Homo sapiens: one gene and its partner. The protein of the gene in region 2 interacts with the protein of the main gene of each other region in a pairwise test. Each region holds a gene or a part of one and is shown on either strand. Other genes may lie near its edges.

Region 1 (3,652 bases), on a different chromosome or scaffold from region 2:
ACTATTAAGAGCACAGTCAGTTCCACCTTAGACTCCATCCAAGAGTATTTTATTATTTGTATAGTTAAAAGCAGTTAGCCAGTGTGTGGTGGCTCACGCCTGTAATCCCAGCACTTTGGGAGGCTGAGGTGGACGGATCACAAGGTCAGGAGATTGAGACCATCCTGGCTAACACGGTGAAACCCTGTCTCTCTACTAAAAATACAAAAAATTAGCCAGGTGTGGTGGCACACGCCTGTAGTCCCAGCCACTCGGGAGGCTGAGGCAGGAGAATGGTGTAAACCCGGGAGGCGGAGCTTGCAGTGAGCCAAGATCACGTCACTGCCTGAAACAGTTAAGACTCTATCTCAAAAAAAAAAAAAAAAAAAAAAAAAAAAAGCCAGGCGTGTGGTGGCTCACGCCTGTAATCCCAACACTGGGAGGCCGAGGCGGGAGGATCACTTGAGGTCAGGAGTTCAAGACCAACCTGGCCAACATGACAAAAAACCCTGTCACTACTAAAAATACAAAAGTTAGCCAGGTGTGGTGGCGTGCGCCTGTAGGCCCAGCTACTTGGGAGGCCGAGGGAAGAGAATTGCTTGAACCTGGGAGGCAGAGGTTGCAATGAGCTGAGATCACACCACTGCACTCCAGCCTGGGTGACAGAGCAAGACTCCATCTTAAAAACAAACAAAAAAAAGAAGATAGCCAAGCCCATTCATTTACGTATTGTCTATGACTGTTTTTCACTACAAAGGCATAGTTGAGTAGTTGGACAGAGACTCTATGGAAAAGCTGAAAATATTTAAAATCTGACCCTTTACTCAACAGTTTGCTGATCCCCCATCTAAATTCCTGGGTTAGGGAGGCAAAGTGTGCTTTTCAACTTCCTTGCTTCCCTGGTGAGGGGTATGTCTGTGTAGAAATTTGATAAAGATAGTTTCTATTTCCCTCCACTACTATACTGCTATAGTGACCTTGGGGCTCATTTTCTGTGTTAGTATCTGCAGAGATATTCATAAATTTGACACCAAATCAATCTCACCAGCCATAACCCTGACACAAATTCCAAGTCCTCTGCCCTATATTCTCAAACTCATTTATTCATCAAACTCCCCTGAAAATTACACATTAGTTCCACTGAAGAGATAAATACATGTTGCTCCATGTCAGATATCTTAGCCTTTCCATTAGACCCCACTGTCTAAAGAAATATGAAGCATATTCATCAGAAAATTTATTGCTTCCCAATTATTTGTTCTTTGAGCAAGGTTGAAAATAGCACCCTCCCCCAACTTCCCTTTAAAATATAAAGTGTTGCCCAGGCGCAGTGGCTCATGCCTGCAATCCTAGCACTTTGGAAGGCCGAGGCAGGTGGATCATGAGGTCAGGAGTTTGAGACCAACCTGGCCAACATGACAAAACCCTGTCACTATTAAAATACAAAAATTAGCCAGGTGTGGTGGCGTGTGCCTGTAGGCCCAGCTACTTGGGAGGCTGAGGCAAGAGAATTGCTTGAACCCGGGAGGCGGAGGTTGCAGTGAGCTGAGATCATGCCACTGCACTCCAGCCTGGGCGACAGACAGAGATTCCGTCTCAAAAAATTAAATAGATAAGGCAGGTGCAGTGGCTCACGCCTGTAATCCCAGCACTTTGGGAGGCCAAGGCGGGCGGATCAAGAGGTCAGGAGATCGAGACCATCCTGGCTAACACAGTGAAACCCCATCTCTACTAAAAATACAAAAAAATTAGCTGAGCGTGGTGGCAGGCGCCTGTAGTCCCAGCTACTCGGGAGGCTGAGGCAGGAGAATGGTGTGAACCCGGGAGGCAGAGCTTGCAGTGAGCCGAGATCGCGCCACTGCACTCCAGTCTGGGTAACAGAGTGAGACTCCGACTCAAAAATAAATAAATAAAATAAAATAAAATAAAATGCACAGGGTTTTCAAGCCCATCCAAACACCCTTGACCATGCTTCTCACTTTTTGCCTATTGTCCACTACACACTTTGAGCAGCAAAGCCCCTAACAACTAATTCGTAACTGACTTTTCTTTTCTGATGATAACGAATCTCTCAGCTCTTTTGGTTAAAAGCGTTCTCAGTTTCTACATGTATAAACCATACACAAAACATCTTTAAACCAAGTGCTAATATGTTCTAAGCTTAAAATCTCCTTATGCATGCTAAGAACCAATACAATCAACTTCTAGAAAAAGGAAGTTTCAAAGGTGCTGGTAATATTCCTTTTTTTTTTTTTTTTTTTTTTTTTGAGATGGGATCTCGTTCTGTTGCCCGAGCTAGAGTGCAGAGGCACAATCATGGCTCATTGCAGCCTCAACCTCCAAGGCTCAAGCGATCCTCCCACCTCAGCCTTCTGTGTAGCTGGGACTACAGGTGCATGCCACCACATCCGATTAATTTTTGTATTTTTGGTAGAAACAGGGTCTTGCCATGTTGTCTAAGCTGGTCTTGAACTCCTGAGCTCAAGCAATCTTCCCACCTCAGCCTCCCAAAGTCCTGGGATTACAGTCTGGGCCACCACGCCTGGCCAATGTTTTATTTATTTATTTTTTAAAGGGAGCACACAGATGATAGTTTTTTTTGGCTTGTTTTGTAAATTTTTTTGAGATAGCGTCTTGCTCTATGGCCCAGGCTGGAGTGCAGCAGTACGATCATGGCTCACTATAGCCTTGACCTCCCAGGCTCAAGTGATCCTCCCACCTCAGCCTCCCATGTAGCTGGGACTACAGGCATGAGCCACCATGCCCAGCCAATCCTTGTTTAATTTTTTGCAGAGATGGGGGTTTATGTTGCCCAGGCTGGTCTTGAACTCCTGGGCTCAAGCAATCCTCCTACCTCAGCCTCCCCACTATTTGGGACTACAGGTGCATGCCACCACACCCAGCTTACATATACTTTTTTTTTGAGACAGAGTCTCACTCTATTGCCCAGGCTGGAGTGTAGTGGTGTGATCTCAGCTCACCAAAACCTCTGCCTCCTGGGTTCAAGCTATTCTTGTGCCTAAGCCTCCCCAGTAGCTGGGATTACAGGGCCCCACTACTGCCGGGCTAATTTTGTATTTTTAACAGAGATGGGTTTCACATGCTGGCCAGGCTGGTCTTAAACTCCTGACCTCAAGTGATCTGCCTCCCTCGGCCTCCCAAAGTGCTGGGATTACAGACATGAGCCAACGTGCCCAGGCTTACTCTTTTTCCTTTTTTTTTTTTTTTTTTTTTTTTGAGACAGAGTCTTGCTCTGTTACCCAGACTGGAGTGCAATGGTGCGATCTCAACTCATTGCAACCTCCACCTCCCGGGTTCAAACAATTATCCTGCCTCAGCGTCCCAAGTAGCTGGGATTACAGGCATCTACCACCACGCCCGGCTAATTTTTGTCTTTTTAGTAGAGACAGGGTTTCACCACGTTGGCCAGGCTGGTCTCGAACTCCTGACCTCAAGTGATCCACCTGTCTTGGCTTCCCAATGTGCTGAGATTACAGGCGTGAGCCACGGCACCCTTACTCTTTTCTATGTATGAAATATTTCACAGTTAAAAAAAAAAAAAAAAAGGTAGAAAACTTAATTCCAGCTGGGCGTGGTGACTGGCTCATGCCTGTAATCCCAGCACATTAGGGGGCCGAGGCAATTGGATCACCTGAGGTCAGGAGTTTGAGAC
Region 2 (3,652 bases):
CCTGGCTGAAGAAAGAAGAAGCAGCCAGGTTCATACTGAGAGAAAAGTTTCCCCTTACCCCATCAGCTATAATTTGTTTATTACTTCTCATTGATATGAAAGTATCTATAATTTGTTTGTTACCTCTCATTGATATGAAAGTGTCATTAAACAAAGAACCCAGCTTTTGAATGACAACATCTGTGGTAACATTAATGATAAGAAGTTATTATTTATACTCATTAACAAGTTATAAAGATTCTTCCTTTTTAATATTTGTCCAGTCTCCTTCCCCTCCACTCTTTCCGGAGTGATGTTCTTACTTCAGGCCTTCCTTGTTCCTCATCTGGATTCTATGGCACTAACCACTGACATCTTTTCAATCTGTTCTCCACTGTTTCCAGAGTCAGTAGTCTCAAATCCAAACCGCGTGGTCCTTTACATCTGTATTTACACTTTCATAGACTGAGAGGCTACCCACCATGTGAAGAAGGTTGTGGTTTGGTGTTTAAGAAAGTAAACAGAGCTGGGAGTGGTGGCTTACGCCTGTGATCCCAGCACTTTGGGAGGCTGAGATGGGTGGATCATGAGATCAGGAGATTGAGACCATCCTGGCCAACATGGTGAAACCCCATCTCTACTAAAGTACAAAAATTTAGCTGGGCATGGTGGTGTGCGCCTGCAGTCCCAGCTACTCAGGAGGCTGAGGTGGAAGAATGGCTTGAACCCGGGAGGTGGAGGTTGCAGTGAGCCGAAATCGCGCCACTGCACTCCGGCCTGGCAACAGAGCGAGACTCTGTCTCAAAAAAAAAAAAAAAAAAGTGGCCAGGCATGGTGGCTCAAGCCTGTAATCCAAGCACTTTGGGAGGCCAAGGTGGGCAGATCACGAGGTCAGGAGATCAAGACCATCCTGGATAACATGGTGAAACCCCATCTCTACTAAAAAGAAATACAAAAAAATTAACTGGGTATGGTGGCAGGCGCCTGTAGTCCCAGCTACTCGGGAGGCTGAGGCAGGAGAATGGTGTGAACCCGGGAGGCGGAGCTTGCAGTGAGCCAAGATTGCACCACTGCACTCCAGCCTGGGCGACAGAGCAAGACTCCATCTCAAAAAAAAAAAAGTAAACAATTCACACCATTATTAATGTTAATAAGGAGTTTTTTGCAAAGGGGATAGATAATATAGTTATAGATAAAATTAAATTCCTGAGCTTAACTGAAAAAAATCCTTACGATTGGTCTCTCTGAAAGCAGTAGGAATTCTTTACAACTTCTTTTGGCCTTTTAAGGGGATACGAATGAAAAGTTAGAGATAACAGTTGTTCAAAATCTGTCTATAGAAAATGTTAGGAGACAGTTTTCCTTGGGTCTCTCATGTCTCTTCATAGTCTGATGAGCAGATGCCCTGACCACTCTCTTTGAGGATCAACTCTTCACTAATGTCTGGAGAGCTCTGCCTGGAGAGCAGAAGGCACACGTTCTGACTTCCAGGATAATAAAAATGTTTCCCTTCAGGGCAAAGGTTGGCAGATTTGCTTGCAGCCCCCTTGTGAAACATTGGAGTTTCCTAAGCTTGGGGCTCCTCAGCTATGAGGCAAACCCCGTGCTTGTGCAGCCTCCACCTAGGCCCTTCTGCATTGCCTCCATGAGACTTGAGAGACAAGGAGAACCCATGTGAACATGAAGCACATGCAGCTGTGAGAAATAAAAGTTGTCTGTCTCTGACCCAGGAATCTCGTATCTTCTACCAGTATCCATAACACTGGCAAGCTAACAGGTTAAGGTCTCAGATCCTTTACAGTTGTTGACAGAGGGAACAACCTTTCATTTGTCAAAATTTATCAGAGAGGGAGAAATTCCAGAAGCAGAGAAGCAGTGATTGTGTGACCCTGATTCTTTCCCAGGGAGTTACACATTACTCTGGGAATGGGGTTGAGGGTGGGTACTTGCTCTGGTTCTCTGTCCTGCCATCACTGCTAACCCAGAGTATGGTAAACTTGGGTGAAAAATGCAAATATGTGTAAATAGTGCGCTCCCATCAAGGGGAAAGGAAATTTACTTTATCAAGGTGGGGTTTGTTTGTTTGTTTGTTTGTTTGTTTGTTTTTTGAGACAAGGTCTCACTCTGTCACCCAGTCTGGAGTGCAGTGGCACAATCTCAGCTCACTGCATCCTCTGCCTCCTGGGCTCCGGCAATCCTCCCACCTCAGCCTCCCAAGTAGCTGGGACTACAGGCATGTGCCACCATGCCTGGCTAAATTTTTAATTTTTTGTAGAGATGAGGTTTTGCCATGTTGCCCAGGCTGGTCTCAACCTCCTGGGCTCAAGCAACTCTCCCACCTCGGCCTCCTAAAGTGCTGGGATTACAGGCATGAGCCACCACACCCAGCCAGTTGAGGTTTGTATATATGTGCCAAACATGTTAGACTCATAGATACGCTATCCTATGAAGGTGGGTATCATTATCTCTGTTTTACAAAGGAGGAGATCAAGGTCCAGAGAGGTTGGGTATGAGATGAGGACATGTAGCTGGCAGGTGGGGAGCTGGGCTTCTATTCAGGTCACTCTGACCCTGTCCAGAGTGGCCGTAGGGCCTCTCAGCAGGACGTATACAGCTGATGTGCTGTTTTAATATGGGAAACTTTTCTCTTATACCATCAATGATTAGTCTCAAAAAATTCACTTCACACCCACTGTTGACTTGCTTCATGACTGGGTGTATATAATTAGACTAAATATCCAGGCACTAGATTTAATTTTGGGGTTTTCATTCATAAGTTTGATATTGACATGGTTGGCAGTTCTAATAGTCTTTCAAATAAAATGTGTGAAATTTATTATGTGTATTTTATATAGAGTTTTGTTTGTAAGTCTGTTTTTTTTCTCCACCCCCTCCTTCTCTCAAAATAGAAACTAGTTCAAATTCTTGTTACAGTGTCCTGAATATAAATTTCTTTGTCACCAGGTTAATTTTGATTCTGAAAATGGACCAACAGTTTACAACACCCTGAAGAAAATATTTAAGCACACGCTGGAAGAAAAAAGAAAAATGACAAAAGATGGCCCTAAGCCTGGCCTCTAGCTTTCACTCGTGGTGAATATTTCAGACCTAAAGATCCAGATAGTATCTCTGTTCATATGTGAATAAGTTGAAGATTGTGGGGCTACTTTTTCTCATAGCACTTTATTTTGAATGTTGTTAGTTTGTGCTGAGAATGGTCGTCCGTATTTGAACCAATTATTTATTTTAAAATATATTTAAGCTACATTTTTGTTTTGAAAAATTGCCATAAATTTGGTGCCACTTTCTTTTATTTATTTGACTGAGTTAATATTATTGTATTAACATTTTAAGTATATGGTGTTTACATTCTTATTTCTTTTGACATTTTGGAAATAATCATAACTTGTCTTTCCAAAATAACCATTTTCTTGATGGAACTCTTCCTAGAGTTTTTACCAAATAGCTAACTTTAGTAGTAAAACCTCATTGTGTATCCATTCCCCCACAGATGAACTAAGAAAGTCACCAAGTGTCTTAAGCTGTTTTATATTTGTTACGAAGAAGGCTATTGCTACAATATTTTTAAAGGTTTCTTTTTTAACTTTGAAATTTTTTGTTTTTCCTTTTCTTTTTATAAATGTAACAGAGGGTTTCAAAGCATATTATTTTT

The links.
Region 1: the proteins of PTPDC1 (region 2) and CRKL interact in binary tests that used the Homo sapiens proteins (3 or more experiments, as listed by UniProt).

What each region holds. Positions count from the first base shown.
Region 1 is NC_000022.11:20,927,407-20,931,058, reverse strand, and holds part of CRKL (crk-like protein), read right to left. Parts: intron 1-3,652. UniProt on the Homo sapiens protein: May mediate the transduction of intracellular signals.
Region 2 is NC_000009.12:94,104,885-94,108,536, forward strand, and holds part of PTPDC1 (protein tyrosine phosphatase domain-containing protein 1), read left to right. Parts: intron 1-2,943; coding exon 2,944-3,060; 3' UTR 3,061-3,652. UniProt on the Homo sapiens protein: May play roles in cilia formation and/or maintenance.